7 linked regions of the Homo sapiens genome follow. The protein of the gene in region 3 purifies or fractionates together with the protein of the main gene of each other region. This does not show direct contact. Each region holds a gene or a part of one and is shown on either strand. Other genes may lie near its edges.

What was found.
Region 1: the proteins of TNFAIP8 (region 3) and DPP3 fractionate together in Homo sapiens (co-fractionation; one large-scale study listed by BioGRID). This does not show direct contact.
Region 2: the proteins of TNFAIP8 (region 3) and IPO5 fractionate together in Homo sapiens (co-fractionation; one large-scale study listed by BioGRID). This does not show direct contact.
Region 4: the proteins of TNFAIP8 (region 3) and ACOT7 fractionate together in Homo sapiens (co-fractionation; one large-scale study listed by BioGRID). This does not show direct contact.
Region 5: the proteins of TNFAIP8 (region 3) and PTP4A2 purify together in Homo sapiens (affinity purification with mass spectrometry; one large-scale study listed by BioGRID and IntAct). This does not show direct contact.
Region 6: the proteins of TNFAIP8 (region 3) and PPP1R2 fractionate together in Homo sapiens (co-fractionation; one large-scale study listed by BioGRID). This does not show direct contact.
Region 7: the proteins of TNFAIP8 (region 3) and NHLRC2 fractionate together in Homo sapiens (co-fractionation; one large-scale study listed by BioGRID). This does not show direct contact.

What each region holds. Positions count from the first base shown.
Region 1 is NC_000011.10:66,500,934-66,504,433, reverse strand, and holds part of DPP3 (dipeptidyl peptidase 3), read right to left. Parts: intron 1-3,500. UniProt on the Homo sapiens protein: Cleaves and degrades bioactive peptides, including angiotensin, Leu-enkephalin and Met-enkephalin. Also cleaves Arg-Arg-beta-naphthylamide (in vitro).
Region 2 is NC_000013.11:97,956,675-97,960,174, reverse strand, and holds part of IPO5 (importin-5), read right to left. Parts: intron 1-3,500. UniProt on the Homo sapiens protein: Functions in nuclear protein import as nuclear transport receptor. Serves as receptor for nuclear localization signals (NLS) in cargo substrates.
Region 3 is NC_000005.10:119,397,104-119,400,188, reverse strand, and holds the end of TNFAIP8 (tumor necrosis factor alpha-induced protein 8), read right to left. Parts: 3' UTR 501-3,085; downstream 1-500. UniProt on the Homo sapiens protein: Acts as a negative mediator of apoptosis and may play a role in tumor progression.
Region 4 is NC_000001.11:6,334,768-6,338,267, forward strand, and holds part of ACOT7 (cytosolic acyl coenzyme A thioester hydrolase), read right to left. Parts: intron 1-3,500. UniProt on the Homo sapiens protein: Catalyzes the hydrolysis of acyl-CoAs into free fatty acids and coenzyme A (CoASH), regulating their respective intracellular levels.
Region 5 is NC_000001.11:31,931,869-31,935,368, reverse strand, and holds part of PTP4A2 (protein tyrosine phosphatase type IVA 2), read left to right. Parts: intron 1-3,500.
Region 6 is NC_000003.12:195,536,826-195,540,325, forward strand, and holds part of PPP1R2 (protein phosphatase inhibitor 2), read right to left. Parts: intron 1-3,500. UniProt on the Homo sapiens protein: Inhibitor of protein-phosphatase 1.
Region 7 is NC_000010.11:113,875,161-113,878,660, forward strand, and holds part of NHLRC2 (NHL repeat-containing protein 2), read left to right. Parts: intron 1-1,360; coding exon 1,361-1,816; intron 1,817-3,500. UniProt on the Homo sapiens protein: Required for normal embryonic development.

The sequences.
Region 1 (3,500 bases), on a different chromosome or scaffold from region 3:
CTCCTTCCTCTTGAATGGGATTAAGGCCCTTATAAAAGAGGCTTCAGGCTGGGTGTGGTGGCTCACACCTGTAATCTTAGTACCTTGGGAGGAGGAGGCAGGGGATCACTTGAGCCCAGGAGTTTGAGACCAGCCTGGACAATATGGCAAGACCATATCTCTATGGAAAAAAAAAGGCCAGCCATGGTGGCTCATGCGTGCAATCCTGGGCACTTGGGGAGTCCGAGGTGAGAGGATTGCTTGAGTTTGAGACCAGCCTGGTTAACATAGTGAGACCCCGTCTCGTCTCTAAAAAAAAGGAAAAGAAAGAAAGAAAAAGGAAAACAGGCTTCATGCCTGTTTGGCCCTGTTGCCATTTTGCTTTCCACCATGTGAGGCCACAGCATTCCTCCCATTCCTCTCCTACAAATAAGGTATCTTCAACAAGGTATCATCTTGGATGGAAGAGAAGAGCAGCCTTCACCAGAAAATGAACCAGCTGGTACCTTGATCTTGGACTCCCCCACCTCCAGAACTGCCAGAAATAAATTTGTGATCTTTTTTTTTTTTGAGACAGAGTCTTGCTGTCACCCAGCCTGGAGTGCAATGGCACAATCTTGGCTCACTGCAACCTCTGCCTCCCGGGTTCAAGTGATTCTCCTACCTCAGCCTCCTGAGTAGCTGGGACTACAGGTGCGTGCCACCACGCCCGGCTAAATTTTTGTATTTTTAGTAGAGATGGGATTTCACCATGTTAGCCAAGATGGTCTCCATCTCCTGATCTCGAGATCTGCCCCGCCCCGGCCTCCCAAAGTGCTGGGATTACAGGCGTGAGCCACCATGCCTGGCCAATTTCTGTTCTTTATAAATCACCCAGCCTCTGGTATTTTTGGTGTGTTACAACAGCACAAGACAGACTAAGACACTCTGCAAAATGCTGGGCCCTGTCACTTACAGGCAGTGTAACCTTGGACAAGTTACTAAACCACTCTGACCTGTTATCTCTAAACAAGAATAGTTCTACTCTCTCATAGTGTTACTGTGCTGAATGAGTGAGAAACACAGATCAGTGATTAGCATAGAGTAAATGCCCACAAAATTAAAGCTAATGTTTCTCGTTTGATTATCTCATTTGACATGTAGACAAGGCAGGTATGACCATTACCCTTTATAAAATAAAACATTTCTGGCTGGGCACGGTGGCTCATACCTGTAATCCCAGCACTTTGGGAGGCCGAGGCAGGCGGATCACCTGAGGTCAGGAGTTCAAGACCAGCTTGGCCAACATGGTGAAACCCTGTCTCTACAAAAATATAAAAACTAGCCAGGTTTGATGGTGGTGCCTGTAGTCCCAGCTATTCAGGAAGCTGAGGTGGGAGAATCGCTTGAACCCAGGAGGTGATGGATGCAGTGAGCCAAGATTGCACCATTGCACTCCAGCGTGGGTGACAAAGTGAGACTCCATCTCAAAAAAATAATAAATAAATAAAATAAAACATTTCTTACACATACAAGATACAGTATGTATACCGTAAAGAATATTAAAACAAACACTCGGGCCGGGCGGGTGGCTCATGCCTGTAATCCCAGCACTTTGGGAGGACGAGGTGGGCGGATCATGAGGTCAGTAGATCAAGACCATCCTGGCTAGCACTGTGAAACCCCGTTTCTACTAAAAATACAAAAAATTTGGTTGGGCGTGGTGTCTCACGCCTGTAATCCCAGCACTTTGGGAGGCCGAGGCGGGTGGATCACGAGGTCAGGAGATCGAGACCATCCTGGCTAACATGGGGTGAAACCCCATCTCTACTAAAAAATACAAAAAATTAGCCAGGCGGGTGCCTGTAGTCCCAGCTACTCGGGAGGCTGAGGCACGAGAATGGCATGAACCTGGGAGGCGGAGCTTGCAGTGAGCTGAGATCACGCCACTGCACTCCAGCCTGGGCGACAGAGTGAGACTTGGTTTCGAAAAAAAAAAAATTAGCTGGGCATGGTGGCACACGCCTATAATCCCAGCTACTCGGGAGGCTGAGGCAGGAGAATCTCTTGAACTCGGGAGGCAGAGGCTGCAATAAGCCAAGAACTTGCCACTGCATTCCAGCCTGGGGGACAGAGCGAGACTCCCATCAAAAAAAAAAAAAAGACGGACACTCATACAACCCCCACCTCACCTCAGAGTTAGTTCAGCTGCTTCTGCTTGACTGCACTCTGTGGCTGTCCCCATCTAAGGAAACCACTATCCTTGATATTGTACTTTCTTTTTTTTGAGATGGAGTCTCGCTGTTGCCAGGCTGGAGCGCAGTGGCGTGATCTTGGCTCACGCAACCTCCACCTCCCAGGTTCAAGCAATTCTTCTGCCTCAGCCTCCTGAGTAGCTGGGACTACAGGTGTGCACCACCACGCCCAGCTAATTTTTGTATTTTTAGTAGAGACGGGCCGCCATGTTGGCCAGGATGGTCTCAATCGTTTGACCTCATGATCTGCCCATCTTGGCCTCCCAAAGTGCTGGGATTACAGGCGTGAGCCACCGTGCCCAGCCGATATTGTAGTTTTTAAAAAACTCTCTTGCTTTCCCTGAGTTTTACTCTCAATCATATATTAAGTTCTTGCCTGCTTTTTTTTTTTTTTTGGAGACAAAGTCTCAGTCTATTACCCAGGCTGGTGTGCAGTGGCAGATTATCAGCTCACTGAAACCTCCACCTCCCAGGTTCAAGTGATCCTCCTGCCTCAGCCTCCTCTGTAGCTGGGACTACAGGCACCTGCCACCATGCCCACCTAATTTTTGTATTTTTAGTAGATGTGGGGTTTCACCATGTTGGACAGGCTGGTCTCGAACTCCTGACCTCAGGTGATCCTCCCGCCTCAGCCTCCCAAAGTGCTGGGATTACAGTGGTGAGCCACTGTGCCCGGCCGGTTTTTGAACTGTATATATTGTGATTTTCTTTTTCTGCTTGGATTATGTTTGAGATTCATTTGTGCCAAAACATTCAGCTATAGTTCCCCTTCTCACTGCTGTGTATGTAGTCTTTTACTTATAAACACACAACTTCATCTCCTCTACTGTTCATGTGTAATTTGGTGCTTTTTTTTTTTGAGACGTAATTTTCACTCTTGTTGCCCAGGCTGGAGTGCAGCAGCACGATCATGGCTCACTGCAATCCCCACCTCCCGGGTTCAAGTGATTCTCTTGTCTCAGCTTCCCGAGTAGCTTGGAGTACAGGATGCGCCACCATGCCTGGCTAACTTTTTTGCACTTTTTTTTTTTTTTGAGACAGAGTCTCACTCTGTCGCTTGGGCCGGAGTTCAGTGGCACGATCTTGGCTCACTGCAACCTCCACCTCCTGGTTCAAGCGATTCTCCTGCCTCAGCCTCCTGAGTAGCTGGGACTACAGGCAAATGCCACCATACCCGGCTAATTTTTTATTTTTAGTAGAAAAGGGGTTTCACCATGTTGGCCAGGCTGGTCTTGAACTCCTAACCTCAGGTGATCTGCCTGCCTCGGCCTCCCAAAGTGCTGGGAT
Region 2 (3,500 bases), on a different chromosome or scaffold from region 3:
GACATCGATCTGCATCTCATAGTTGGAGCTATTGGCAGCATGGATTTTTAGTCATCCACAGTTAATGAGGAACAAATGAAAGGGACCTTATAATGGTTCATAGGCTTCAATTCCATGCATCCTATGTGTAGTACTGCTTGATGCCACATTTAACTGCAGTAGTATTTGTTTAATGAACATTTTCTTCATTCATTTGTTTAGAAAAATATTAGGCACCCCTCTGTGGGAGGTGCTGCTAGGCTGTGGGGATTCCACGGTGAGCATGCGGACAGGGTTCCCACCTTCAGGGAGCTTAGCTCTTTTGAAAGAATTCAGATAATAAACAAGTAAACTGATAAGATACTTGCATACAGTTATAGGTGAAAAAAGAAGATAATGGGATCACGAATGACTGGATTTGGAGTGGGGTCATACCCTAGGGACACAGTCTTTCTTTTCTTTGAGACAGAGTCCCAGTCCGTCACCCCGGCTGGAGTGCAGTGGCGCTATCTAGGCTCACTGCAACCTACGCCTCCCGGGTTCAAGCAATTCTCCTGGCTCAGCCTCCTAAGTAGCTGGGACTATAGGCGCCCGCCACCACACCCGGTTAATTTTTGTTTTTTGTATTTTAGTAGAGACGGGGTTTCACCATGTTGGCCAGGCTGGTCTTGAACTTCTGACTTTGTGACCCACCCGCCTCGGCCTCCCAAAGTGCTGGGATTATAGGCGTGAGCCACCGTGCCCTGCCGGGACAGTCTTTTGAGAGGAGGTGACAATGAAAGATGAGGCAAATAAAGAAATGGAGGAGGCTCTCTCAAGCAGAGGTGACAATACGAAGGACAGAGGCAAAAACAAGTTGGGGTATTCCAGAAAGGAAAGAAGGGGATAGCTAAAGCTGAGAGGGTTGAGAGGCCAGCAGAGGCCAGATCACCCAGGGCACCCTGATAGTTCAGCAGCATGTTCTGCTACTAGGGCATTGTGATGGTTCTGTAGTGTGACTTGTTCTCTCTCTTTTTTTTTTTTTGAGACACAGTCTTGCTGTGTCACCCAGGCTGGAGTGCAGTGGCGTGATCTTAGTTCACTTCAACCTCTGCCTCCTAGGTTCAAGCAATTCTCTTGCCTCAGCCTCCCGAGTAGCTGGGATTACAGGTGCCCGCCACCACGTCTGGCTAATTTTTGTATTTTTAGTAGAGACGAGGTTTCACCATGTTGGCCAGGCTGGTCTTGAACTCCTGACCTCAGGTGATCTACCTGCCTCAGCCTCCCAAAGTGCTGGGGTTACAGGTGTGAGCCACCGTGTCCTGCCTCTTGTAGTGTGACTTGTCCTAGGGGAAAGGGGAATCTAGTGGAGGGTTAAGAAAGAGATCTGACCTGAGAAGCTTTCAACTTTCAAAGATCATCTTGGCTGCAGTGTGGGGTGGGGTGGGATGGGGCTTGGACTGAGGTGGTAGCAATCAACAGTGTTCACTGTTGTGTGGTCGGTTTTAGATGGTTTTCTTTTCTCTTTCTTTCTTTTTTTTTTTTGAGATAGTTTTCTTTTGGAAATGAGCTGGACAGAGGGTGCAGAGGCCGATCCAAGGTTTGTGAGGCCTAAATCATACAGTTTGAGGGCCTTCCATAAGAAAAATAAAAACTAAACACAAAATGAGATAGAGGACCCTGCAATGGGGTAACACAAAATGAGATAGAGGGTCCTGAGCAAAGGAGAGTCCCTGACACTTAAGCTTCTGGAATTTCTTGATGAGTCCTCTCCCGATGGTGGGGGTGAGGTCGGGAGAGATCAAGAATGCCCAGGTTTTGTGACTGAGCAACTGATGATGCTATTAAGATGAGAAGGAGGTGTTTGGGGTAAGGTCTGGAGAGAAGAGCTGGGTTTCCTTCGTGGCACTTTTGTGGGACACAGGAAACAGCCACGTGGCTGAGGATAGAGGGACAATGGAGCCCAGGAAGAGGGCAGGGCTGGAAATGGCAAGCCATCACTTTCATGGCATTTAAAGTTGTGGAAGTGGATGACATCAGGTTGGGAAGAGAGAAGAGAGCCAAGCAATCAGCTGCAAGACAACTCCACCTGAGGCCAGGCCCTGGAGGTTTCTAGTTTATATATAGTCCAAATATAATAGTATATTTAACATTAGTCACTTTAAGTTGTAATTCTCTTTTTCTTTCTGATTGCAAGGGTTTCTTTCTTTACTTTTTTTTCTGAGACAGAGTCTCATTCTGTCTCACTCTGTCACCCAGGCTGGAGTGCAGTGGTGCGATCTCGGCTCACTGCAATCTCCACCTCATGGGTTCAAGCGATTCTGCTGTCTCGGCCTCTAGAGTAGCTGGGATTACAGAAGACAGGGTTTCTTTAACATTTAAGGAATCCACTGATCTACTTCTGAAATCTTCAGAGATAAAAAAGAGAAGGAATCCACTAATGCATGTAAGGATAGTGGGCTGAACAAGTAGGCCCTAATGATCAGAACAAGTCAATTAAAAAAATTATTTGATCAAAGAATTGTTTATTTTTATTGTTTTTATTTTTATTTTTTCTTATACTTCAGGAGTAGTAGGATTTACTTTGTGCCAAGGAAATAACTAGTTTTCTCTAAATTGTCTTCAAGCATTTAGGCCTCCTACCAACTAATATAATTCTCTACCTCTCACTTAGAAACATTGTTTAACAATATGGAATGATCATTTAAAGAACTTAGATCAGGCTGAGTGCGGTGGCTCATGCCTGTAATCCCAGGACTTTGGGAGGTAGGTGGATCACCTGAGGTCGGAGTTCGAGACCAGCCTGGCCAACATGGTGAAACCTTGTCTCTACAAAAAATACAAAAAAAAAATTAGCCAGGTATGGTGGCGCAGGCCTGTAGTCCCAGCTACTCAGGAGGCTGAGGTGGGAGAATCGCTTGAACCTGGGAGGTGGAGGCTGCAGTGAGCTGAGATCACGCCACTGCACTCCAGCCTGGGCAACAAAATGAGACTCAGTCTCAAAAAATAGAAAAAAAAAAAGATGTTAGATCAAACTAATATTAAGAGGTCAAAAGACCATCTTCCTCCCATCTTAATCTAAGGATTTTTCTAGTTTTGTTTATACACTTAAGTTTTCATTTGAGTATTCAGAGAGATAATAAACCCTACCCTTTTAAAGAATGTGGGAGGGAGTGGGAAAAGTAGGAATGCGTTTTAAGGTCTATCTGCCATGTAAAATCAGCGATATTGGACCCATGTGATAAGAATGCTTGTTTTACATGGCTTCAGCTATCCATAGACCAAGCATTTTCTCTTGAAACATAGCTACATTTAGAAAATCTTAATACAGCTTAAAATAGGAATTTTGGTATTTGGTCCCGGACACTACCACCAGAAAGGGATCCCATTATGTTATGATGCTATTATTCAAGCTGGTTGGACTCAGTTTGCAGAGACTCCTATTTTACAAATCACTTGGCTTGTGTGAATTGACTATTTAGTGGCTGTGAGATTGAGGATAAGGGCTAAATCTTTTCTAACAAGAGGACTATTTAAAAACC
Region 3 (3,085 bases):
TGCTGATTTTCATCTGTATCCTTTTGCTATAATAAACCATAACTATGAGTACAATAGCTTTTCTGAGATTTCTGAGTCCTTCTAGAGAATCATCAAACCTGAGGGTGTCTTGGTGACCCCAATACAGCCTGTGATTTGATTTGACCAGTAGAATGAGGCAGAAATGATATTGTGCCTGTTCTGGGCATCAGCCTTAAGAATGCCTGGAAACTTCTGCTCTTGCAATTTGGGGTGCTCTTAGTAAGTAGTAAGTAGAGACCATGGGGAGAGGAGAGGCCCAGTCATCCAGGTGTCCCAGCCAAATCTTTGTAAGACTCCAGTCCCAGCCATGATCTGACCACAACCACATGATAGACCCCAAATCAGAGAACTGCCCAGGTGAGCACATTCAACGCACAGAATTGTGAGCGGGAACAAAATGGTTGTTGTTTTAAACCACTAAATTTTGGGGTGGCTTATAATACAGCAGTGGATAACTAAAACCAGCATGAATAATCAAGTGATTTAAGAGATTCAGAATTTAATTGGTTAAGAGATTATACATAAGTAGCTGCTAGAAATCATTACTTTCAACAATGCAACCCAAAACAATTTTCCTAAATTGAAAGCAAAAACCGATTTTTTTTTAAGGAGACTGGAATTGAACAAAATTCTCTCAGGCTGCTGAAGTCTGTTGCTTCATTTATTTTAGACTCAGTCTTCTTTTCATCGCTGATTTGGAAATAGTGAAAGGCCACCCGTAAACAATACCTCACATAGGAATAGCCTTCAGGAGGTCTCAGAGCCTTCCATGTCTTTAAAAATTGTATCTTTAAAATTAGAATATGAGGTAATTGCTCTTATGCAAATTTCAGAGACAACATGAGCGAGCTCCCTGGCAGGCAGAAGCTGGACGTCCTGGTTTCCTAACTGCTCCCACAAATGCCCTCTGTACCCTGCTGGGTTCCATCTGGCCACACTCCAGTGCCTCTCCCAGAGGAAGGCATGCCAAATTCCTGACACGTGGCGTTTGAAAATACCATGGAACGTTTCCACTCGTGGATTTCACCATGTTCTCCAGTGAATATTTTAGCAAGCTAAAAATGTGACTCCTCGGTCATGAGAACACTAAGTCCATATGATTCGAAAAGAGCAATAATGCTGGAACTTTGATCCAATTATCAGCAAGTCCTCTTCCAGGAGATTAAATGTCTTATAGTATTTTATAATTTGCTTAGCAGGTATTTATCCTTTAGTGAAAACCAATGGTCTTAGAAGAGAGCAGCAAAAGATGCTGACAAATCATTTAAATGGCTAAGTGGTCATTCTTGCTGGCCTAATAAAAGTCCATTTCTAGGAAGACGAAACCTCAGCTTCTTATAAATCATCAATTATCCCAGATAATGGTAACAATATAGATATTTATACTCTGAGTTTTTATTTCCGCGTCTTGTGTTTCAACTTCACATCAGGTTGGTTTTTAAAAATTTATTTATTTACTTCGAGACAGAGTTTCTTTTTTTTTTTTTGAGACAAAGTCTCACTCTTGTTGCCCAGGCTGGAGTGCAGTGGTGTAATCTTGGCTCACTGCAACCTCTGCCTCCTGGGTTCAAGTGGTTCTCCTGCCTCAGCCTCCCAAGTAGCTGGGATTACAGGCATGTGGCACTGCACCCGGCTAATTTTGTATTTTTAGTAGAGATGGGGTTTCACCATGTTGGTCAGGCTGGTCTTGAACTCTGGACCTCAGGTGATCCGCCCACCTCAGTCTCCCGAAGTGTTGGGATTACAGGCATGAGCCACCGCACTCAGCCTGGCAGTTTTAAACGAATGAATTCATCTGTAAGCTTTTGAATGGAAAAACCAAAGTAGAAAGAAACATATTGTCTTACATTATTCTACAAATCAAAACTTTTAAAAATCAAATTGTCTTTCTTGTATTAAGAACAAACCGCAAGTGCCTGATCATCTACTTTATTTCCACGAGGCAGAAATACAGTTATGCAGCTGATGTCAGGGAAGGCGGAGAATTTCCTCAGCCATCCATGAAGAAAGATAAGGGGCCTTATCCACTGGCTGTCTAATCTTATAAAGATCTCATGCAAATTTGGTGGACATAGGGCACAATTCTCTATCCTTGAAGAACATTTTCCAAAGCACAGATGTTTTTCTCTTAATTGTGAATGCTGACTGACTTGTCCATATCCTTTCTCAGTGCTCAGCAGATGGTACGATTTGGGACTCGCTTGTTCCCTATAACGTGGGGCTGATGTTCTTTGCTACGTGGAAAACACATCTTTGGTGAGACAGAAATGAATCAATATTACACAAAAATGTTTCCATTTCTGGAATTTCCCTGAGATAAAAATATCTTTCTGGCTTTGGGTATACATAAGTGACCGTGCAGACACTTAGTAAAAGAGAAAACAGATTTTCAATACTTCGTGGTGATGGTGACTATACGGGATTATAAGTAGTTAAAGGTTTTCCTGTTGCATCATTTTGGAAACAAAAAGCTGACTCATTTTCTGGTTAATGCTTCAATATTTTCATTAGGGAGTTTCTATAAAGTTTTTATCTGAATCACAGAAAGTACAATTATTTCAGAGGTAGGATAAAATTTTTTCTGTCATAAACAGCACTGTGTACTAAAACCTGCTATGAGTTTAACAAATCACCTAGAAGCCTAATGCTCAAGAATGCAATATATCAAGTAAAACACTGAAAAGTTCAACTAGTTTAGATAATGCAAGTATGGAAATGCAAGATTGACTAAAACTTTTAAATATTATCACTCTTATTAACATGCTAATTTAATTCATTTTACTGGAGTATTTTAATTTCCTGGCAATTGAATAGCACTTTTTACTACAAATATTTCATCATTTGGATAAACATATTCTTTTATTTACCATTTGTCAGGTTTTGTATGCTAAATTGCAACTGCTTATATACACTCATCAAGTATCTCAAGGATAAATTAAAATTCTTAGTAAAAATCCAACTGACCGGTACAGACCACAAAAAGTACTATTTTAAGCCTTTGGGGGCTTAAAAATTGTGTGTGTGTGTGTGTGTGTGTGTGTATTCACATGGTGGGAGAAAAAGA
Region 4 (3,500 bases), on a different chromosome or scaffold from region 3:
TCACTTGTACAGAAGGAGTCTGAGGCCCAGAGACGTCTAGGGGTTTACCCAGGGTCACACAGCAACTTGGTGCCATACTCCCATGTCCCAGTCATTTCAGAGAAGTATCTGCAAGGATGCCTTTAAAAAGTGGCTTTGTCAGGCACGGTGGCTCACACCTGTAATCCCAGCACTCTGGGAGGCTGAGGTGGGTGGATCACTTGAGCTCAGGAGTTCCAGACCAGCCTGGGTAACATGGCGAAACCCCGTCTCTACCAAAAATACAAAAAATTAGCTGGGTTGGCTGGGCACGGTGGCTCACACCTGTAATCCCAGCACTTTGGGAGGCCGAGGCAGGCGGATCACCTGAGGTCAGGAGTTTGAGGCCAGCCTGACCAACATGGAGAAACCCCGTCTCTACTAAAAATACAAAAATTAGCCGGGCGTGGTGGTGCCTGTAATCCCAGCTACTCGGGAGGCTGAGGCAGGAGAACAGCTTGAACCCAGGAGGCAGAGGTTGCGGTGAGCCGAGATGGCGCCATTGCACTCTAGGCTGGGCAACGAGAGCAAAACTCTGCCTCAAAAAAAAAAAAAAAAAAAAAAAAATTAGCTGGGCATGGCGGTGCACACATGTGGTCCCAAAGGCTGAGATAGGAGGATCGCTTGAGCCCGGAAGGCAGAGATTACAGTGAGCCTAGATTGCACCACTGCACTCCAGCCTGGGCGACAGAGCGAGGCCCTGTCTTAAAAAAATAAATAAAAGTGGCTTCTTCAATGTGGAAGATCCTCACTATAAAGCAGAAGAGCAAACTGCAGGAAGTAATGGAGGAAAGGGAGACAGGAGCAGCCCCAGGGCCCTGCCCAAAACCCCCAGAGGAGCTCACTTCCCACCAGTTACCTGAACCTGCCTCCCCAAGGCAAAGCGCTTTTCCTCCTCAATAAACACAGCCCCAGGCTCCAAATCAAGCCCCAGGGGGCCCATTAAGAAAAGGCCTGTGCCTGCCCCTCCTCCCCGCACAGAACACACCTTGGGAACGTGGGGCTCCCAGTGCTTGGGAACCACAGGCAAATAATATGGGAAAATATTTCCACCGCACTTTGACTGAGAGTGAATCTGACAACCTGCTTTTGGGAATAAAGATTTCCTGTTGGATTCAGCTAGAGCCAGCCTGACAAGCCGGTTTCCATGACAACTCGAGTGGCCCTCTGGACCTAAATGAACACCATGGAGCAAATGAGGCAAACATGCTAATTGTATTTTCTCCATCATTTAATGAAAGCATCAAAAGACAACGGCAGTATTAGAAAATTATCTCTCGGCCAGCTGCGGTGGCTTACGCCTGTAATCCCAGCACTCTGGCAGGCCGAGGCAGGCGGATCACGAGCTCAGAATCGAGACCATGCTGGCTAACAGGTCTCTACTAAAAATACAAAAAAATTAGCCAGGCATGGTGACACGTGCCTGTAATCCCAGCTACTCGGGAGGCTGAGGCAGGAGAATCACTTGAACCTGAGAGGCGGAGGTTGTAGTGAGCCGAGATTGCGCCACTGCACTCTAGCCTGCACGACAGAGCAAGACTCGGTCTCAAAAAAAAAAAAAAAAAAAAAAAAATCTCTTAAAATCTTAAGAGCTCCCAGCTATTTTTCTGGAGCAATTCACAGCAATCACATCCCAGTTAGCTTAATATTTTGACAGTTGCTGGAGATAAATGAGCTGCCTCAAAGGCAAGGTTTGCGGGTCGTCTGCCTGGGCCTGTGCTCGCTCAGCGGCCTCGTGACAGGCAGCACAGCCCAGGTAAAGGGGACACACAGAACAGGGGACCCCTGTCTCCTGGGGTGGAGACAGCACACAGATGTCACGCACACAGCTTATGACTCAGCCTGCTCCGGGCCAGGGTCCCCGCGCGCATCCTCTGCCCCCACCTGCAATACCCCTATCTTTCAGAGGTCACCACCCATTCAGCCAGTGCTCCCCGTGTGCCCACAGTGTGCCAGGCACTGTTCTTGCTGTTGGGGCCTTCGAGTTCAATTTCCAGGGGACACATGGGCAGAGACAGAGAAGGGCCTCAAGAGAACAATAGAGACTGCAGAGAGAGATGGCAGAGAAGCAGAAGCACAGACGAGGAGATGAGCGAGACAGAGGGGGAGATGAGACTCGCAGTCACAGAGTGAGACAACAGCGGGCTCCGGGGCCTGACCAAGATATGGAGAAAAGCTACAGCCTTGGGGCTCCAAGGCCTCCCTGCCCAGCCCCTGCTACAGGGAAAAGGCTGAAGCTGGGAAGAAGAACCTGGGGCACCGCCCAGCCCCACTGGGAAAAGCCTTCATGTGCTGGCAAGCGTATCCTGCCTTCTCCAAGCCTCACGCGCACGACAGCGCAATGCCAGCCCTGATGTCCCCAGGGAGGAGGGGTGGGCATCTCTGTCCCTCTCTGAGCCCATCCTTCGGAGGAGGAGGAGAAGGCCGAGGGCTGTGGTGGCCAGGACACAGCTGGGAGGCCGAGAAGCTCCCAGCACCTTCTGGGTGAGCTGGTGGGGGCTGCTCTCTCATGCTCACGCCTGCCTTGGCTCTGCACAGGAGCCTCTCCCCCTCTCAGCCCCTAAAGAGCGAGGGATCCTCACGAATATGTCAGATTGTGTCGTCCTCATCAAAACCCCATCAGCCAGCATGTCTCAGCACTGATGCCCAGTTCTTCCTGGTCGCCTCTGCTCATTCACTTATTCATTCATTCATTTGCTCATCCACTATCGGTTCCATATCTATTATGGGCCAGCAGAAGCGGCCAGGAAAGGGAAGTTCAGGATCTAGGGAGTTCCTCAAGCTCAGTACCCCTGACCTTTGGCCTGCATCACTCTCTGCTGTGGGGACAGCGGGTCCCAGCCATGCTGAAAGCCTGAGAACGCCTTTCTGTCTCCCTGCCTCTCTCCCCATCATCCCAAACTGCTCGGCTGGGCTCGGTGGCTCATGCCTGTAATCCCAGCACTTTGGGAGGCCGAGGCAGCTGGATCACCTGAGGTCAGGAGTTTCAGACCACCCTGGCCATCATGGCGAAACCCTGTCTTTACTAAAAATACAAAAATTAGCCAGGTATGGTGGCTCATGCCTGTAATCCCAGCTACTCAGGAGGCTGAAGCAGGAGAATAGCTTGAACCTGGGAGGCAGGAGAATAGCTCGAACCTGGGAGGCAGAGGTTGCGATGAGCCAAGATCACACCACTGCACTCCAGACTGGGCAACAGAGTGAGACACCATCTCAAAAAAAAAAAAAAAAAAAAAAAGAAACCTGCTCTTCAGGGCTTCCTCTGAGGCTATGGCCTCTGATGGACCACAAAGGGGGCTTTCATGGCAGAAAATCTGCAAAGCAGATCCCTTCCTGGCATTTTTGAAGCCACCAACTCCTGCAATGACAAAGGGCACTGCTGACTGGGCCCTCACAAGCAGGAAGGTCCTAGGAAGCAGGAGAGCGCGGCAGGCCATCCCTCCTCTCCAGGAAGGGGCCAAGGCTCCACCCCCAGCACAGTC
Region 5 (3,500 bases), on a different chromosome or scaffold from region 3:
AGATGCTGACTGGAGGCTCTTTGGGGCCTAAGCTAGGCTTTTATGTGGGAGGAGATTATGCCTTGAAACTCTCTTGGGGCCCCGGGGTGTGTGCTTTGAGACAGTTTTTATGAGGCACCTGGGATATGTCTGCGTGAGGGAAGTCTGATTAAAGAAATGCAGCAGCGTCTTATGTTTTTTATTTTTTGGAAAAAGAGGAGAGTATATTTATTGGGGCCAAGAGTGAACTAGAACTTACCACTGTATCAAAGTTTCTCTGTTGAGCTGTGTGGGACACTTAAATCAGAAGAAGTGAGAAAATACACGTGAAAGCACTTTGTTAATTATAAATTGAACTACAGATTCAAAGTATTATTACCACTAAGATCTTTCTACTAAGGCAACAGATTTTGTAGCTGGAAAAGGCTGGCATTTTAGAACACCTTTATAGATGAAAAATAGTTTTGAACTGCTGAACGGGGTATTTTCTGACTCAGAACAGCAAAAGTCAGGCCACTCCCTCTGTGAGTCAGTCAAGTAAAATTTAATTTGAACGAACCAAATTTATAGGCAGAAACCATTTACAACATCATTGAACTTTGTAGCACTAGGAAGAGTAAATGTTTGAATACTTTTGTGTATAGCTTTAAAAAACAGTATGAGAGCCCCATATATAGTTGACTTGAAAAAAGTTTCAAACAAGGTAAATTGGATTTATTTTTCTTTAGAATTAACTTTTTATTCATTTTGTCCTATAAAGGTAGTATTTCCTTATGCAGTAATTAAGGAACACTTTACAATTTTCAGACACAAAGTTGAAATTTAGTAGGGATTTATTTTACAGGATTTGACTATACTTTTTCCTTTTTGTTGTAATGTGGGGGTTGGTAACCACTGAAGCCTAGAAAACGAATGTATTTACAAATAAGATGGAGAGGAGCAGGTGCATACATTTTTAGCTGTTGCTCTTGGTCTTGGAAGAATGAAGCTTAAGTTTTTGTGAAACTAAGTTTGGTTGATTTATTTGGGTGCTATTCCATCAACTATATTTGTTGAATAGAAGATGGGATCTTTAAAATTTTGCTTAAGAATCAGGATCCATAGTCTTTTTTGTTTGTTTTGGTTTTTTTTAAGACGGAGTTTTGCCCTTGTTGCCCAGGCTGGAGTGCAGTGGTGCAATCTTGGCTCACTGCAGCCTGCGCCTCCTGGGTTCAAGCGATTCTCCTGCCTCAGCCTCCTGAGTAGCTGGATTACCGGCACACGCCACCACGCCCAGCTAATTTTTTGTGTTTTTAGTGGAGATGAGGTTTCATAATGTTGGCCAGGCTGGTCTTGAACTCCTGACTTCAGGTGATCTACCTGCCTCGGCCTCCCAAAGTGCAGGGATTACAGGCATGAGCCACCGCGCGGCCCAGGATCCATAGTTTTAACATGGTGGACTTAGTTATGTTTATCGAATAGGGTGATGGTAGAGATCTTGGGGTACTGGTAAAGTTCAATATTACCCTTTCAGGGTTTAGGTTTCCACATTCCTTTCTTACGCCAAATCATGTATTGTCTCATTTGAAACTCAATAATCCTGTAAGTAGTATTCTTTTAGCTTTACAGATAAGGAAATTTATTTATAGATTGATTGTTGTTGGGTTTTGTTTTATTTTGTTTTCTTCCAGACAGAGTCTTACTCTGTTGCCCAGGCTGGAGTGCAGTGGTGCAACCTCAGCTCACTGCAGCCTCCACCTCCTAGGTTTAAGCGATTGTCCTGCCTCAGCTGGTATTATAGGCGTGCGCCACCACGCCCAGCTAATTTTTGTATTTTTAGTAGAGACAGGGTTTCGCTATGTTGCCCAGGCTGGTCCCGAACCCCTGAGCTCAGGCGTTGAGTTGCTGGCCTCAGCCTCCCAAAGTACTGGGATTTGATTATTAAATCCCAGGTTTTAGAATCTAAGTTAAAGATTATCAATAAATAGATAGCAGTGAATAATTTTTTTTTTCCTTTTAGGGGCTTAAAGTACTTAAATCTCTGTTGAACAGTGGATACCACCAGTTATAATTACTTTGGGAGATGGTGATTTGAGTCTCTTAATCTGTGAAATATTAGAAAAGTCTTGGCTAGGCACAGTGGCTCATTCTGGGAGGCAGACACGGGAGGATCACTTGAGGCCAGGAGTTCGAGACCAGCCTGGGCAACATAGAGACAACATCTCTACAAAAAATACAAAAACTAGCCAGGCATAGTGGTATGAACCTGTAGTTCCAGCTACTCAGGAGGCTGAAGTGGAAGGATCACTGGAGCCTGGGAGGTCAAGGCTGAAGTGAGCCGAGACTATGCCACTGCAGTCTAGCCTGGGAGACAGAGGGAGACCCTGTCTCAAAAAAAAAAAAGAAAAAATCTTTTCACCATTTTCATCTTTTGAACTATTAACTACGTATAGAGGTGTCAGTTAGCTTTCTCTCATTATCCTTTGTTTTATTGGCTGAACCTCATTCTATGGGCTCCCTTGACTCCCTGGCCACTGTCTTGGCACTTGAAGCCTTTTAGGTTGCTTAGTGTAGAGCTGAAGTGCATATTGTGTGAAAATCTTTTTGCTCTTTGGAGTGGTAGAGGTCTAGGCTCAACCAGAAACTGTCACTACCCTAGCACCTCCATGAAAGAAGCTGCACAGCAATACTAGCTGTCTGCTTTCCACAGTTCCCCATTGTGGAGTTACCAGGACTTAGGTGAGAGAATGACTCGTTTCCTGCACTGTTTGTTCAGTCAGTGTAGATTTACAGGACACAGAAATCTTTCCCAGAAAAATGACTGTGAGGAGTTGACAGATTATACAGATATTTTTTATGTGACTTGAATGTAGACGGTTTTTGTTTGCCTATACTGATTTTCTTGCCCACAGGTTATGTTAACACAGCATCCACTTCATTTTAAGTGGCCTAAACTAAATTTCATCATTTGAATATAAATTTACCTTACACAATGTTGGCTTTTTAAATTCTTGAGAATTTTAAGATTAGGCTTTTTTGTGACCCTTTCTTTGCTAGTTGAGCCTGGTTTGAAAAAATATTTTGAACATTTAGAACAGTCTTTACCTTTAGAGAAGTGGTGCATTTAATTCCTCTCATAGTATTTTTTATTTGAACTTTTAGTCTTCTCAAGACATTAATTCTTTTGGCATAAAATGTACACATGATATATTTGTTTTAGCAGATCAGATAAATTACTTTATATTTTTATTTCTGCAGTGGCCAGATATGTTGGCTGTTAACTAATGTATTGTTTGACAGGAATTCAAATTCACAATCAGGTCTGTTTTCTTCCAGTTGTCCTTTAGTTTTTGTTTAAATTTGACCAACTTTTTATTTTCCCCACCGTTTTACAGGAAACATTCACTAGGTTGTATCACCACAGTATTTGTAAATTGGATTTATATACAAATGTTGATATTTGTTGTTTTTAGTAGCAGAACAAATTGTTGTGTATTGTATTTTCCATTATTGGTGAAAAGCCTTTCATTAGGGGATGGAGT
Region 6 (3,500 bases), on a different chromosome or scaffold from region 3:
TGATCATCGTTGCTTAGGATAAAAAAAAGAATGAGGAAAGACCTCTGGAGTTTAAAAAGTATCTCTAATGGGAAAGAAAGAACGCCACATCCTGTAAATATTTTTTGCAAGATAAGGATTGAAGAAAAAGAACTACAGAACACAAGCAGAAATTAAGTTTTCTTGAAATTAAAAATAAAATTTAATAAACACAATCCCAGCACCCTAAGCCATTCATAATTTTGATTTCAGCATATTCTTCCCTTTGTATAATACATATAAATATGTATAAGCTATCAAAACATAAAAATATATATAACTATACATATAAAACAGTACATACAGTATATATACAATACATATGCTGATATATAAGTTTTAAGTATATGTAGTATAAGTTGCTTGTGTTTTTTTACCTTCTTAATGACTGTATAAGATTCATTTAGATTGATAACCTAAATAAGTTTTCCTATTTAAAATAAGGCAGACATGAACATATTTGTATATATGCTATTCAATGCTGTTTTAAAGAAAATTTGCTAGTGTAAGAGTCTGAATTAAAGTTTATTAAGAACTTTATAGTTCACTCCATGTTGCCATACAGATTTTTTTTTAAAAAAAGAGGACTGTTTGTAACGTCCCCAGTAAATTACCAAACCATTGCTAGGATTAGCTATTGTGTGTGTGTGTGTGTGTGTGTGTGTGTGTGTGTGTGTTTCCATTTCAGCAGGTATAAAACAGTATTTTAAAACTGTTGTTTCTTTGCCTAATTTCCTCATGTGAATTATGTTTACATCCTTTGCCTATCAGAAATCTTCCCATAAATTTGAGCTCTTTAGATTTATATAAACCACATTTTATATAACTTCAATTTTTCCCAGTTTGTTTGCCATTTAGTTTACTTTCTTCTGTAAATGAAATTTTAAGTTCTAAATATTCAAAGTCTCACTCAACTTGTTTTCTCAACAGAACACTAACAGAAAAAAAAATTAGTACAATTATTCAGATCCAAAAAAAGACAACAATAGCTTGCAAAAACAAGCATTTAAATAACGGTATTACAAAACAGACTCCAAAAATGCTAGGAAATCTTCGAAAGTTAGTGAAGTAGAAGAAACTGTCAGCAGGGGACACTGGATATGAAAGTCGGCATCTCTAAAGTGATGGCAGAATTAACATTAGTTGTGGAATAGCAAAACCCAAGGAGTGAGCCTGAGCTTAATCCCAGTACCATCATGAACTGTATGACCTCCTTTGAGGTCAGTATCCCTGCAGACAAAAATAGGGGCACCACCATTTACATGGCAGATCTGCCATGATGGTGAAAGCACCTGCTGGTTTCAGTTTTCCCCCACCCTCTTGGGTGACTGGTTTTCCTACAGCCTAAATCTGGTGCTGAAAACGTCACCGCTTCTCACTTTTACTTTGTTAGCTCATATGGTGCCACCTTAAGAAGACCTACTGGAACTTCTTGTTGCTTGTGACTTGCTCATTTGATAAGTTGTGACTGTGTCTGGAATGGGAAGCAAGATTTTGCTTCAAGGTGATTTAACTTTAATTGCACATTTCAAGAAATGGTTCTTTCTTTAAATGAAGATTCAACTTATATAGATTGACACAATATAAGACTTCGAAGCCTGATATCGTTACTGAACAATTAAAGTAAGACTTAACAATAAAAGCAATTACAAGTAAGCAAAAAGTAACTTTTAGAAAACAAATTTTTATTTTACTCAGTAAACCTCTGACTATAATATTCCACATCCCTTTATAGGCAGAAAAAGACAAAGTTGAAGCTTGTTTATATCTTAAATTACATCAAAGGAAATTAAGGCATAATTTTTTCAAGCAGAATTTGCCTGCATTATCTAAGACTACTATAGAATTTGAATTGAACAGAATAGTGAACTCCAAAGCAGACTGTGTAAAAACCCCGCTGAGATATGGAAAAAATGAATTTCTATATTTATTTCTATTACAATAAGACTAACATTTGAGGGTAAGGCACTGGGTTAAGCACTTTACATTTATTAATTCATTTAATATTTAAACTAAGGCACAGATATAATGAATAATTCACTGAAAATCACAACTAATAAAGTTTGCTAATAAGCAGCAGACAAGATTCAAACCCAGGCAATCTGGCACCAGATTAACCACTAAACTATAATCCTTCTCAAATGATAGGCTTTAGCAATATTTACTGTCATATTTTCAATAATTCCCAAAACACATTTTTTACATTTTCACATCTCTGAAAAAGAACATGTCTTAAAAGGATGGCATCTTATAATCATAGCTGGCAGTATTTTTTCTTCCTGGATAGTACATCTTAGAATCAACAGTGTCTTCTTTTCATTAAGATACACATATGTACTCACTAGGCCTGCTAAATTAGACCTTCATAAGTTGTGCCCTATATTCAAGGTATCCTGAAAGAATGGGAAGTCCACAATGATCGAAGATGACAGTGGTGTTTAAAACAGCTGAATGCTGTGGTGCAATGTACTGAGATTTATCTATACTTAGTTATGTGGATTTATGGATTCTATCCAGTTTTAATTTAACCCTCAAAAATTGGTATCTGACAAATGGTACCTGTAGAAACCACTCATTAAAGACATAAGTACTGGTGGGGCATGGTGGCTCTCACCTGTAATCCCAGCACTCTGGGAGGCAGGCAGATCACTTGAGCCCAGGAGTTTGAGACCAGCCTGAGCAATATACTAAAACCCCATCTCTACAAAAAATACAAAAATTAGCTGGGTGTGGTGGCCTGAGGTGGGACAATCATTTGAGAGCAGGAGATGGAGGCTGCAGTGCGCTGTGATCGTGCCACCGTACTCCAGCCCAGGTGGCAGAATGAGATCTTGTCTCAAAAATAAACAAAAAAAGACGTAAGCACTAATGCAAAGTATAAACAATAAGAAAATAACAGCACTGAGTCATCTAAAAAAATAAAACCCCCCTCAATGATGGTTTGATCGGTCCTGACAATTGGATAAAAAAATAGAAATGCTAGACTATCTGAATATGGCTTTATATAAACCTCACTTTAAGTGGACATTGAGTTTTGAGAATTATCTAATGATAGTAGTACATCCATATATGAATTACAGACATATATCTGAAGTATGTTTGAATTCTATTTTTAAAAATTCCTTGGTAATATTTACGTAAAATAACATCCTCTCACAACTGGGGGATGGGTAGGAGTCAAACTATCATCGCATTTTACACAACGAAGACACCTATAAAAGGTAGGGTTCATTCTCATTATTCTCTGATTCTTTCTTTGCAAGTTTACCTACTTGCTAAAATGTGTAATCCCAAAACTAGCATTTGAGGTCCGTTAGCAGTTGCTCACAGACAGCCACAGAGCAGGGCAGATTCTGAGTTGCCCAGTGCACCGTTCACAGCCGAGGTAGCATGTTCCCAGATGGGGTCAAACAAGGCGACGCTCTGCTTTCTTGTTTCAGCTCTTGTACTGTAAACAAGTGTCCTTTTCGTGGCCTATTTAG
Region 7 (3,500 bases), on a different chromosome or scaffold from region 3:
GGTTCTGTTATAGTCCTGTAGGGAACATTGGTAGCCTTATTTTAGTAGGCATCAACCCTCTTAATTCAAATTATAACTTCTGTCTCATCTTCCATCAGCTCTCGCTCCTTCTGTAAACCCAGTTATTCAGTTATCAGCTCCCCAAGCATTTGCTACACTTTTTAAAATCTGTTCCCTGTACTGTAGTTTAGGGGTTAAACAAAGACTTCTGAGTGTTCATACTCAGAAATAAGGAGCCACCTTCCCCAGCTGTTCTCCTCAGGGTTTCTCCCACACTGTCCAGGTTATGTGGTTTCTTGGGCTAGAGTTGCAGTGGGATTTCTGTTGGAGTTTTGGCTCTCCATACAGCTCCAAAACTGGAACCCACTCTCAGGACAAAGCTAGGAAAAGGATTGGAAAAGAAAATAAAATTGGCAGCTCACTCTTCTGTCATTTGATCTTCTGTCATTTGCTTTTCTGAGTTTTGGCCCTGCTGTACAATCTATCTGGTCGGGTTTACTTTTCTCCATCTTCAAGCAGGGTGTGTCTTCAAGCATGCATGTCTGTGTTTTGATTCGGAATTGATAGTTATAATAGAAGCATGAGCTGCTGGGAAATTATACCTCCTGATTTGTGTGGTTTTATTTGTTCATCTTGCAGGTTTGAGTAGTTTTTGGTGGATGTGTTGGGAGATTTGAATGTTACTTAGCTGTTATTATCTCTACTACTTTGGTAGTCAATATTGAATTTTTTCACTGAATCCAGCCAAACACTTTTTTTTTTTTTTTGGTACTAATTTCTTGAAATAATGTATTGATTAGATAAGAGAAGTATGTTTTCAGCAGTTCTGTCTACAGAAAGGCTTGTTCTAAGAACCATACAATAGGAATTTTAAATAAATCAAAAGCCTTATATTATGGAAACATCTTGCTTATATTTATTCTGTTAATCTGTAATGTAAAGTTAGATTAAAAAAAAAAAGACAGTGATACAACAATAAATACCTCCCAAAAGCAGGCATAGTCAACTCTGAATTTCAAAGGGGCTTATTATAGGTGGAAAAAATTTCAACATTTATTAAAAAAATAAAGATAATTTTTATAGCATTATCTAAATAAAAGAAAAAAAGTTTTAATCCTGCAATAGCCATATGAATTTGATCATGTGTGTTTTTATGTAGTAATCAAGATTGTTATGAGATTTAAATTTGTTAGTTTTTTATGTGTGTTAAAATGCAGTTGAAGATCCCAGCGTAGTTCTACTTTTCGTTTTTTTTTAATCTATGGACTTTTAATATTTGTGATCCAAAACCTAATGTGTAGATGATGATATTCAAACTTAAATATTTAATAATGTTTAACATATAATTTTTTCCTTTCAGATGGTCTTCTTATTATTGGTGTTCACTCGGCTAAGTTTCCAAATGAAAAAGTCCTGGATAACATTAAGAGTGCTGTTCTTCGATACAACATCACCCACCCTATGGTTAATGATGCAGATGCCAGCCTTTGGCAAGAACTAGAAGTTTCCTGCTGGCCAACTCTAGTCATACTTGGACCTCGTGGAAACATGTTGTTTTCTTTGATTGGAGAGGGACACAAAGATAAATTATTTTTATATACTTCAATTGCTTTAAAGTATTACAAAGACAGGGGGCAGATCAGAGATAATAAAATTGGAATAAAACTCTATAAAGATTCTTTGCCACCTTCACCATTGCTATTTCCTGGCAAAGTAACAGTAGACCAAGTTACTGATAGATTGGTAATAGCAGACACTGGACATCATAGAATTTTGGTCGTTTGGAAGAATGGACAAATTCAATATAGCATTGGAGGTAAAACTTGCTTCTGATTACGATAGATAACGTGTTTTACAGTAAAAAAATAGTTCAAGGTAAATATAAAAGTTGAAATGTCTAAATGAAAACTAATTATAGAAAAGTGATATACATTGACTTAATTTCCTAATAAAAATTTTTTGTTAATTAATATGATGTCTGAATTAACCTCTTCTCACTCCCTCATAAAACAAACAAAAACACTGAAAAAGCTCCAGGTCAAAAAGAGGAAATAGTTCAGCTTTTAGGTATATTTGTATATTCTATCTTTTTTTTTTTTTTTAAACTGCTGTACTTACTGTTTCTTATGAAAACATACGTTTTGGATTTCAGATGTTTTAAGTAGAAGTATTATGTTTCACTTTCCAACAAAATATAGCCGTATCTTTTTAAAGATCATGTCAGTGCCCCATGAACTTGAGATGTAGTTTATAAAATAAATAAGCTAGAATTTGTGCATAGTTTTACTTTTCTCTCCTTTCTTCCATAAGAACTTGAACATGTTTCTGGATCTATTTCCAGAATAGAAATAGGTGTAGCAGAGTATGAGTATCATGCAAGCGTAGATCATTTTGTTCTATATCTCCCTGGTCTTAGATCTAAAACTACCTCTTGGTTACATCTACATAATTAATAAACTCTACTGAGTACATTCTTATTAATCTTTCTTATCTAAACTGAGCTGACATTTGACAGCATGTTAGTCAAAGACAAAAGTAATTCATTTCTTTGCAATCCTGCTTTAGTAATATATGCAGCATTAGTACATAAAGTAGAAATGTCTGTGTTCCTAATATAAAAAAGCTAGTTGTGGTCCTATGCCCTGATGTTATTCTTAATATACCAAGATACAGTATGTGTTGTGTTTTGTGGTGTTTGTTTTGTTTTGGCTACTTGGTATTTTGATTTATGACAGGCAGTTACGAGAATTGAATTGTTACTCAAAAAGTGTCTTTTGTAGCAGTTTGAATTTAAGTGGTTTTAAAAGTTAATAGATTCTGTGATTTTCAAAATAGTGTAGGTGAATATTCTTTGTTAAAAGAGAAACCAGCAGCAAGCTACACTACCCAAACATAGTTCTAGAAATACTGTTATCTTTTGATACAGTTATTCTTTAATTTTTAAAAAAGAATTCTTTGGTCAGATACACTCAGGAAACACTTTTAATGTTATCAGATTTTTATTGGTGATGGTATCATAATATTTCCCAAATTTTTTACTCTCCTAATTTTCCTTATGGGGGGGTATAGTACACAATATTTTCCAATCTCATGTAACCACAGAACTCTCCCTTTTTTTTCAGGGAACTCTTATCAATATCAACACAATAATAGTATTATTAACAATTGTAGGTACAGTAGACACTATATGTCTGGCATTATTCAAAACATTTTACTTGTATGAACTCATTTTTGCCTGCACAATGCTATGAGTTAGGTAATTAGTTCCATTTTACAGAAGTAAAACTGAGACACAAAGAACTTTCCCAAATCACCAGCTAGAAAGAGACAGACTTGGGATTTAGACAAGGTCTATTGGGCTCTTGAGTTGGTTTTCTTTTTTTTAAAGATGGAGTCTCACTCTGTTGCCCAGGCTGGAGTGCAGTGGCATGATCTCAGCTCACTGCAGCCTCCACCTCCTGGGTTCAAGCAATTCTCCTGCCTCAGCCTTCCAAGTAGCT